Regions from separate parts of the Homo sapiens genome. Here regions 1, 3 and 4 are each linked to region 2. Evidence: fine-mapped expression QTL. A gene starts in region 2. Each other region holds a variant in brackets. All regions are shown on one strand. Distances are from middle to middle.

Region 1 (2,692 bases), 29 kb after region 2:
TACTACTCTGATACCAGCTAGGACATTTAACCAATAGAAACCCAATTCTTATTATATTGGCTTAATTTTAAAATTTTTTTATTTGTTTTGACTTTATTCAGATAATGTTGAACTAGATACTATGACATGAGGATATTCCTAAAGGATTCTGCTTTGGAGTGCTTTTTGAGATGTGTCTTTTCCAAAAGATTTCTCCTCCCATTTAAACCTCAGACCAACAGAAAACGAGTCTTACTTAGATACTAAATTGCTAATTTAACTTCTTAATTTGAAAGTTGTAGTGCTTTTTCTTTTTAATGAGTAATTTAAATTTATTGGAACCAGTTATTTAACGTTTGATTTTTTTAGCTTGTTATTTTTCAGATAGACCAAGAATTGATGTAGTTTGAAATGGTTTTAAAATTTTGCATGCCAATTGCACATGCACATTAGAGTCATTTTTGAGTTTTTACTTAATCTGTTTCAAGTAACTGTGGCTCAAAATAAAATAATATAGTCCTAATTTCAATGTGTGGACAATTTTCGTGCTACAGTACAAATTGCAGTAATATTCTTCTACAGCTAGGAGGCAGTCTGGTCAAAGAGTAAAATTTCTCTCCCAGTTCTCATGTGCAAACAAGATAATACACAGAATCTGGAAGGAACACGTAGTTTAAGCCATTGCATTTCCTGTGACACTTAAGGCATTGTTCGTCATCTTCTGTTTGTAATTATGTAAAGTTACCACTAGTTTCTTGACAACGAAGTCTAGGTTACTATTAAAATAAGCCCTAGTTTTCCACTTGATCTTTACATTAGTAACTTTTTAATCATATCTGTTGCTGAAAGAGGTCATTCTTTTCACAAAATTTCTATCTTTCTGATAGTTCATAAGGATCGTAGCATTTAACTAAAAAGTAATTATATATTTACATGCAACAGTGACTATGTTAGAAATTAGGGGAAATAATATATTCCAGTTTGTAAGTATTCACAGAAGAATGAGATATTTGTTATTTATTTAGATTTATTTTTTTCTAAAAATGATTTAAGGCTTTTTACAAAGAAGCATAAGTAAACAAGTGAAAATAAATATTAGTAATAAAGAGTCAAAGGGAAGGTAAAAAAAGAAAGCAAAATGGAGTTGGTAGTGAGATAGGTACACAAAACTGTATGTATGACTAGATGTCCTAAACATGCTTGATATATAGGAAGGGGGCTACATCTAGTAAG[A/G]TGAAATTCATGGGGAGATTAATACAAAAATGTATTCTATCAGATCCTGTGCACTAGATGTAAGGTGGCCAGTAATTTGGCTCCAAACTTGGATGAAGAAGAGAAAAACCAACTATAAAATGTACAGTGCCTATGAGGCTAAAACAGACAAGAAGGACAATAGTTTCTGACATCAAGGACAAAATTGTCTCTTGAGTGTTCTTCATAGGACAGTGGGTCGTATAAGAATGTGTAATCAACAGCTTTACATTGAAGGCAATGATAAGTTTATTTTATTTTTATTTTTATTTTGAGATGGAGTCTCGCTCTGTTGCCCAGGCTGGAGTGCAGTGGTGCGATCTTGGCTCACCGCAACCTCCACCTCCCGGTTCAAGAAATCCTCCTGCCTCAGCCTCCTGAGTAGCTGGGATTACAGGCACCTGCCACCACGCCTGACTAATTTTTGTATTTTTAGTAGAAACGGGGTTTCACCATGTTGGCCACGTTGGTCTCCAACTCCTGACCTCAAGTGATCTGCCCACCTCAGCCTCCCAAAGTGCTGGGATTACAGGCATGAGCCACCGCGCCTGGAGATAAGTTTATTTTTCATAGGAGTATCATTTAGGTTCCTTGCAAAGACCAGGGGTTTTGAGGTAAAGCAGAATTTGGTAAGAGCAATTTTGTGCCAGATCAACCAGAAAATGAAAAAATATTGACCTTTTAAGCTTTATTTCTATTAGTTTTTGTATGTACTTCTAAAATATGTATCACTGATACCAGTGACAAACCTATCTAAATATTGATAATATTTCTTTTCCTTTTAGATTCTGAAAAAGAGTTCCACGTCCTCCCTTATCGAGTCTTTGTTCCCCTTCCTGGATCCACTGTAATGTTGTGTGATTATAAATTTGACGATGAGTCAGCTGAAGAAATCAGGGACCATTTTATGGAGATGTTGGATCACACAATTCAAATAGAAGATTTGGAAATTGCAGAGGAAACAAACACAGGTCATTATATGATGCTATTTAAGAACCTGGTTAGATTACAGCTAAGATTTTACCTATGAGATGTCTAGTTTAAATATCATGTCTTTAGATTTTTTTTAAAGCTAGTTCTGTTTGACACTTCGAAATATTAACTGAGACATTTTAAAATACATGTTTAATTTCTACATGTCTAGACATACAGTGAGTATTTCCTGGGAAATTGTACCAAAATTTAAGATACTAAGGTATTTTTCAAGCTTAGCAAGTAGATCTTAATAAAACAAGTTCAGGATTAAGTAGGTAAAATTACAAAGCTTTAAGGTATTTCTTTCAATATAAAAGTTTTCTCAAAACTCATTATCTTACTTGGTAAAGCATCATGTCAGAACAGAAGGTTTTAAAACACTAATTTATTAAACATTTTCTCCATATTATTTGCCTTTTTTTTTTCATATACCTTTCATGTAATTGGGATACTAAGCCAAAATGGGCAGTTCCAGAAATTAGATGAC
Region 2 (2,692 bases):
TTTTTTTTCAAAGGCTTCTTATCAAACTGTAAGGAGCAGGAAAGCGAAGGCTCAGGATATCCACAGAGCCCAGGAAGTGAGGTTAACAGAGCGGTACCCAGTGCCAACTTGATGGGGGAAGACCAGACCCAAAGGGCGGGAGTCGAGCCCAAAACCAAGGACGGAAAGAGCATCTCACTTACCGCTCTCCACCTTAAATTTCTCATGCCGCCCCTTCAGGCCATCGATCTCGGATTGCTGATCAGCAAGGAACTTTTCAAGTTTGTTCTGGACAGACTTGGGCAGCTTGTTCAGCTCCGTGCGCTCCAGGACTTGCTGCAACACCGCCGCCATGTCGGTGGGGCCAGGGACCCCAGTGGCAGCGGCCGACGGGGTAGAAGCGGAGAAGAAAGGCGAAGACCAGCAGGACCCAGACGCCTGGGCCGCCGCCTCTATCACCTCGCTCGGTGGCTCGCGCGCGCCCGCCCGCCGGAGACTCCCGCGGCGGGACCCTGGGAAATCGAGTCCACCCTCAGCGGCAGCGTTTCAGCAACAGCACCTCACCGCCCGCGACCGAAGTGCGCGCGCAGCCGTTGGAAGCTACGAACCCTGGGAACCCGAGCTCAGAGGCTATCCCTGATCCTCTTGCGCACCCAATTTTCCGGCTTCCAGCTCCACCCACTTCAGGCCTTGTAGGGCTCTGGGAAATGTAGTGTTTTTCTCATTCTTTTCCGGGAGCCCAATGCTGCACCGCCCTCTCAGCTTCCGTTTTTCTCCCCGCTCCCCTGGCTCTCCTATCTCGGCCCCGTAACCGCTGTCCGCACGGTGGCGCCACATACGTACTCGTCACCCCTTGGCCCTCCCTGAAGAGCTGGTGACCTTACCGTCAAAGCCCCGGGATGCCATGGATCGTCCTCGTTGGCGGCTTCTGGACACTGAGCCACTAGAGGGCATCGGTCCCGGTAGGGCCGGACGGCAGGCTCCGGGATACCGCCACGCTCTCTATGGCGCCCAGAAGGGGGCGGGGTGGCGACCGCAGTCGCTTTGGCTGAGGCTCTGCGGGGAAGGGAGGGGGGGCTTTTACGTCATCAATCTGCGCCACCTGACTCCCAAGTCCCTGGCTTTGGAGTGGGAAGTGAGGTGTGGGAAGTAGGTCGCTTTCTGATGAATTCAGTGGCAGTGAATTGAGACCGGAGGGAATCTGGCCCCTAGAGGCTGGTACTTGGGCCCGAAACCCCCATCTCCGGCGGAGAGACCGTCCGAGGTAATTGTCTGCCACGAGTGCACATTCTGAAAACAGGTAAGTCAGCCTAAGTGTAGTGTGTGTGTGTGTGTGTGTGTGTGTGTGCTCTCTTTTCAAGAGAAAAAGGAAGGGACAGTGTTGGAACCATATGGACAGTCACTCCGGCACACACTTCTGACGAACTTACCTTGTGTGAAACGGCGTACCTAAATGGTTTTTGGTGGTGGGGAGGTGGCACTGAGTGATTCAGTACCCGGGAATTTAAGGACCCGGGTTAATTCTTCAGGAGGAGAATTAAAAGAAACCGGTAGCACTTTGAGTGTAGCCTATGTTTTAAATTTTTCGTTGCAGAAACGGTTACCTAACATTATATTGTTTTTAAAATTGAAAACTGTTGTAACTGAAGTTTTTAAACACATTGTTAATTTCTACAGTAACAGAACTTGTATGGTTCCAGATCATAATTCTGTAGTTTTAAAGCTCAATCCGTAGATTGTTTCGTGTTTACTCTTATGAAAGAATTTGTTAAATTATTCATTGTAAATAATGCATTCCCAGTGTCGTCTCTCTGCAGTTCCCACAGTCGTGGGCCTTCTGTGAATTGGTGATTTAGTTCTTATATGAAATTTATTCTTTTTCTCTAGTTCTTACTTTTGAATCATGTTGTGAAGCCGTCTAAGAAATATAAATGGAAGCATTTTATGATATTTTGTAATAACTAAGGAAAAATAAATCAACAGCGGAGCTTAAGGTTGATTTTTCCCCAAAAATATTTTTTAGATAAGCATTGTAATTAAAGTTGCTGGTATATGAAGTATTATGCTATGTCCTAAGCCCACAGTATTATCATACTGTTGATCTGTCATTTGGGAAATGTAGATTTTTCTGTACTTAGATTCACAGAATCCTAAAATTAGATAGGTTTTCAGATCTGCTAGGATTCAAATGCTTTATTTTATAGATTAGGAAACCAGAGCCCAGAAAGGTTGAGTTGTGTCAGTCACAGTGCTTGGACCACAAAGGCTTTGGCTGATATACAACATTTCTGGAAAATTATGACCCTATAAGGCAAAATACAGTTGTCCCTTGGTATCCGTGGGGCATTGGTTCCAGGACCCTCTCACCTGCCCACCCCATGGATATGAAATCCATGGATGCTCCAGTTCCTTATATTAAATGGTGTAGCATTTGCATATCTTAAATCATCTCTAAGTTACTTATAATACCTAATACAATGTAAATGCTATAGTTGTTATATTATATTGTTTAGGGAATAGTGACAAGAAAAAACATCTTTAATGATACAGATGTAATCATGCTTTAAAAAAATAATTTTTCAATCTGTGGTTGGTTGAATACATGGAAGTGGAAACCACAGATGTGGAAAGCTGACTATATACATTTTTAGTACTGCCTTTTATAAAGTATGGTTGACTACATTTAAAAATTTTGAAAGAGCACTAAAGAAAA
Region 3 (2,692 bases), 540 kb after region 2:
ATATAGCCTTTTTCCCAACTAAAATGGCCACATCCCCTTCCTAGCTTATTGCTATTAATGATAGCACAGGCATCAAATTTCAAGATTATGCGTTTGGGCACCCCTTTTTCTTCTGTTCTGGCTAATACTTTACTTGTATCATTTATGAGTCCCCACCAGTCTTCAGTCCTTAATCTTATTTCAAAAACAGTGGACATGGGAGGCTCAGAGGGGTCATAACACACATCTGGTCTGTCGTTTCCTGGGCTACATACCTGTACTGAGTGTCATTATATAAACATGTTCCTTTTAAAGTTCCTAGGCATTCATAGTAACTATAGAACAGAATAATTGTTTTAACTTGTTGCCCTACCTCGGTAACCTGATGTATACACTGAGAGCAGTCCTCCATGCAGGGAAAATCAGTGGAAGTGTCTACTATACAAGTCCAAATTATAAGGAAAATGAATCCCATGATAATTTTCCTCATGCTTCGGCTGTGCATAGACCAGTCAGCTTCTGGGTGTGACTGGAGCAGGGCTTGTCGTCCTCCTCAGAGTCACTTTGCAGGGGTTGTCCGGGCTCGGTTTTGCCTTCCAGGTTTCAGCGGCTGCAGGTTTCACACGGCTGTGGTGGATCCAGGGTGGGATTCCTTCTACCTTTACAGCTGTGGGGGTGTTCAGGATGATGGTCTGAGGTCCTTTCCACCGTGGCCGCAAAGGGGCTACATTCCAGTCCTTGATTCATACGCGATCACCTGGAGAGAAAGGGTGAACTGGGGAGAATAAGCTGATGGGACACCTCTCATTTACCCAAGTTGAGATTGTTTGTGTAATTTTTCCTAAAGCCTGTAGCTGTCGCTGTAATTCAATTCACCTAACTCTTGGGAAGTGCCTGGAAGCTCTCCTAGTATAGGAGGAGGCCTATGATACAGTATTTCTTAAGGGGAGTATCCTGTTTTCTTAGAAGGAGTGCATCTAATTTTAAACAATACCATAGGAAGGGCCTGTATCCACTTTAATCCTGTTTCCTGACATACTTTCCCTAAACTATTTTTGATAGTCCGATTCATTCGCTCCACCTTTCCGGAACTCTGAGGTCAGTAGGCGGTATGTAGCTTCCAAGTGATTCCTAATGCCTTTGCTGTCTTCCGTACCAAGTGAGCCACAAATGCCGGCCCGTTATCTGAGCTGATTCATAAGGGCAGTCCAAACCTAGGAATAAGATCTTGGAGAAGCACATGGGTTACCTTGTAGGGCTTTTCAGTTCGTGTTGGATAAGCCTCCACCCACCCAGAGTAAGTACACGTAAGAACCAGCAAATACTTGTTACCTCCACATTTTGGCATTTCTGTGAAATCCACCTGAAGATCCTCAAAAGGAGCTGCTCCATAAGCTTGTATGTGGGGCGAAACAGTGGGGCTTTGCCTCGCATTGTGCTGTCGGCATGTAATGCACAGTTGTGCTACTGCTTTGGCAAAGGCTGGCAAGTGTGAGAC[G/A]TAGAAGTACCGGCCTAACAATTCTTCAAGTGACTCTTGCCCTAGGTGAGTGGTTTCGTGCATGGCCAATACGACTGTGGCTCCCAGCAACTGCAGCACAGCTACCCTCCCATCTGGCAGTCTGATTCATCCTCCTTTTATTACTTGCCCCCTGTCTGGGTGGAAGAAGTCTTTTTCTTCCTTAGAATAGGTATGTACCAGGTCAGGTGTTTGAGGGAGTAAGGGGGCTGCTATCGATGCCCAGTAAGGGGTAGATGCTGCTTTTTGAGCTTCTGAATCAGGTCGAGAGTTTCTTAAGGCCACTGAGGTGGAGGCTCGCTGGTGTCCCCTGCAGTGCATGACTGCCACCTTCTGAGGTTTCCACACTGCCTCTAATAATTGTAGAATTTACTGTTGATATTTTATGTCCTTTCCCCCAGAGTTTAACAGGCCCTTTTCCTTATATAATGCTCCATGCACTTGGAGGGTTAGAGAGGCATATCCAGAGTCAGTGTAGATGTTTACAGTCTTACCTTCACTGAGTTCTACAGCCCGAGTTAAAGCAATGAGCTCAGCCTTCTGGGCTGAAGTGCCCTGTAGCCACAGTTTGGCTTTAATGACAGCATCCAAAGTTACCACCGCATATCCTGCACATCTTTCTCCTTGTGAGTTGATGAAGCTGCTCCCGTCCATGTATAACTCCCAGTCTACTGATGATGCCCATGGCTGGTCCCGAAGGTCAGGTCTGCTAGAATAGACTGAGTCCAACACCTCTACACAGTTATGCTCGCCCGGGCTCTCTGATACTGGGAGCAGGGTGGTGGGATTTAGGGTGTTACAGACTTCAATAGTTATGTGGGGATTTTCACATGGCAAGCTTTGGTACTTGGTTAATCTAGCATTTGTTAGCCAATGATGTCCTTCGGTAGTCATCAAAGTTACCACAGCATGGGGGGCCTTTATATTCAGGTTTTGCCCAAGGGTTAGTTTATCTGCTTCTTGTGCTAACAGGGCTGTTGCTGCCAGGGTCCTTAGACATAGTGGCCAGCCTTTGGAAACCCATCTAGTTGTTTTGAGAGATAGGCCACTGGCCTTGGCCAGGGCCCCACAGTCTGGGTTAAAACTCCAACTGCCATTTTTTCTCTTTCTGACACATAGAGTGTAAAGGGCTTTGTCAAATCTGGTAGTCCTAGGGCTGGGGCCGACATAAGTTTTTCCTTTAACTTACAAAAGGCT
Region 4 (2,692 bases), 510 kb after region 2:
CCAACTGCTATTCTAAATATGGAGTTTTACTTCTGATTTGCAATCCTGAGCACTGGTGATATGGTAGAAACATGGTTAAGGAAAAGAAGCAGTCACCTCCTGGTTGAAAATGTGATAATGTTACCCTATGACATGTTCTCTTCTTCTTTGGCCCATTTCACCTTATCATCCTTCCCACTCAATCTTTTTGTTCTCTAATTTGTATTCCATGGTCCTGTTGAGAGTTATAAGCACTGAGTTAGAAATGAGAATGACTGGCTTTCCCCTTTTGTCTAAAATAGGATATCAAAAGTGTGACCAGAAGATGATCCACATCAGTGTCAGCTAGACTATTTGTTAAAAATTGCAAGCCCTTAATTCCACTACAGATATGCAGACAATGGGTCTTCGGGGATGAAGGTCGGGGTCTATGTTTTTACAATAACCCTGGGCATTTGTGTTGCACTCTCACTTTTGCCCCACTGCTCTTTACCAATGATGTATAAGGTCCAAGCCGGAAAATTAAAGGCAGCCTCAAAGGCTGATACCTTGTTTGTAGATCCTCCCGTTTTATAATAACAACCACTAAACATACACATGCATCTAAAGAAGCTGATGACTACATAAAGAACTAGGAGCAATACTGAACAATTAAGTGAAAGACATTGATTACGTTTTTTGATGACCATAGCTGTTGTTGACAGACAACATCTATTTAAATTTTTTTGGGGGGGAAACCCAATCAATAGGTCAGAAACTATTATTTTTGCTTTTCCTTTATTTTCAACTGTTGGATCTTTTTGTTTAGACCTCTGTACTTCTTCTCTCCCCCCTCCCTCCCTCACTCTTGCACTCACCCTCTCTTTCTCTTCCTCTAATTCCAGCTCCTCTTTCCATAGAATCCATACCCTGTAATCTAATTTTTGTTACTGAGGAACATGATGTAATAAGAGAATGATTGTTGTAGTCAAATGACCCAGGTTCAAGAACTTGACCTGATACTTATTAGCTATGTGATATTGGACAGAATGCTTAATATTTCTCAGTTCCTGTTACTTTAACACTAAAATAAAGTACTTACATTATAGCGCGATTGTGAGATTTAAATGAGACTAATGTGTGTAAAGTACTTAACACAGATCCCTGTAGTCATTACTTAGTTATTTGTTGTTTTTGTTATTAATTATAATGGCCGCATGGAAAAGCACCTGTTAAACGGGAAAGTCAAGTCGATAGGTTAGGAAACCTTAAATATTGTAATTGTCGCTTTCTGTTGTTAGCTTCTGAAGATGTACAGCTGAGGAAGACAAGATCTTTGCCCTCAAGTTGTTTATAGTCTTGTAGGAAAAGACAGATAGATGTATAATTTCATCCATAAAGTATAGTGTGTCCAGTGCTGTAAGACATTAAAGGATTCGGTGGAATCCTAAAAAAGGAGTGATCAATACTTGCACAGTTTGGGTCACTCGCTTTGTTGCTAAGTGTATATGTAATGGGAGGAAATTAAAATAATTTCTTTATTTGCAATTGTTTTGTTCTATTTCAGTGGGCACACATATCATACCCTGATTCAAGTGGGTATTTATGTGAAATAGAAAAAACCGTTACTGGCCGGGCATGGTGGCTCATGCCTGTAATCCCAGCACTTCGGGA[G/A]TCTGAGGCGGGCAGATCAGGAGGTCAGGAGATCGAGACCATCCTGGCCAACATGGTGTAACCCTGTCTCTACTGAATATACAAAAATTAGCCGGGCATAGTGGCATGTGCCTGTAATCCCAGCTACTCTGGAGGCTGAGGCACGAAAATTGCTTGAACCAGGAGGCCGAGGTTGCAGTGAGCTGAGATTGTGCCACTGCACTCCAGCCTGGCAACAGAGCAAGACTCTGTCTCAAAAAAAAAAAAAAAGGAAAAGAAAAAAATTGTTGCTTCATAGAGACACCTCATTTCCATCTGAATATTGCCATAATAAATACATGTTGATTTTTAATATGAGTGCCACCCCTTAAAGTTGTTCAGTGTACAACCTGTACAACCATACAAGGCAACTCTATAACAATAAACAATATTCTTCTCACAATGACTTCCATTATTTTATCTGATAAAGTAAGCAGGATGATTTTTCTAACATTGACAAATATAATCTTTTTTTTAAAAAAAAGTATTTTTCAATTTTTTTTCTTTTTTACTTTTTACTTTTACTTTTTAATTTTTATGGGTACATAGTAGGTGTATATATTTATGGGGTAAGTGAAGTGTTTTGATATAGGTATGCAGTGTAAAGTAATCACATCATGGAGAATAGGGTATCCATCCTCTGAAGCATTTATGATTTGTTGCAAATAATCCAATTACACTCTTTTAGTTACTTTTAAGTGAACAATTAGGTTATTATTGACTATCGTCACCCTGTTGTGTTATCAAATAGCAAGTCTTATTCATTTTTCTGTTGTGTTTTTTTTGTATCCATTAACCATCCCCACCTCCCCTCCAGCCCCCTACTACCCTTCCCAGCCTCTGGTAATCATCCTTCTGCCCCCTCCATGGGTTCAACTGTTTTGATTCTTAGATCCCACAAATAAGTGAGAATATGTGCTGTTTGTCTTTCTGTGCCTGGCTTATTTCACTTAAGATAATGACTTCCAGTTCCATCCATGCAAATGGCGAGATCTCATTCTTCTTTATGGCTGAGTAACACTCCATTGTGTATATGTAACAC

Evidence for each region. PIP is the estimated chance that this variant, and not a neighbour inherited with it, causes the effect.
Region 1: its variant is fine-mapped to the expression of ODR4 in whole blood (INTERVAL, PIP 0.91).
Region 3: its variant is fine-mapped to the expression of ODR4 in testis (GTEx, PIP 0.99).
Region 4: its variant is fine-mapped to the expression of ODR4 in testis (GTEx, PIP above 0.99). The same link has a PIP of 0.9 or more in caudate, pituitary and subcutaneous fat.

What each region holds. Positions count from the first base shown.
Region 1 is chr1:186,404,068-186,406,759 of GRCh38, forward strand. ODR4 (odr-4 GPCR localization factor homolog) reads left to right here. Exons shown (of 14, transcript NM_017847.6): 12 at 2,016-2,201. Among named protein-coding and RNA genes, the nearest start is that of ODR4, 30 kb to the left of the region's middle. The variant A/G (reference allele first, on the strand shown) is at 1,213.
Region 2 is chr1:186,374,696-186,377,387 of GRCh38, forward strand. It overlaps ODR4 (odr-4 GPCR localization factor homolog), which reads left to right and starts at 1,143. Exons shown (of 14, transcript NM_017847.6): 1 at 1,143-1,279. TPR (translocated promoter region, nuclear basket protein) reads right to left here and starts at 558. Exons shown (of 51, transcript NM_003292.3): 1 at 183-558. The coding sequence starts at 333. RefSeq lists enhancers at 303-602, 763-812, 983-1,172.
Region 3 is chr1:186,916,457-186,919,148 of GRCh38, forward strand. The region is part of intron 7 of PLA2G4A (phospholipase A2 group IVA); the gene reads left to right. Among named protein-coding and RNA genes, the nearest start is that of PLA2G4A, 89 kb to the left of the region's middle. The variant G/A (reference allele first, on the strand shown) is at 1,478.
Region 4 is chr1:186,888,986-186,891,677 of GRCh38, forward strand. All of the region lies in intron 3 of PLA2G4A (phospholipase A2 group IVA), which reads left to right. Among named protein-coding and RNA genes, the nearest start is that of PLA2G4A, 61 kb to the left of the region's middle. The variant G/A (reference allele first, on the strand shown) is at 1,633.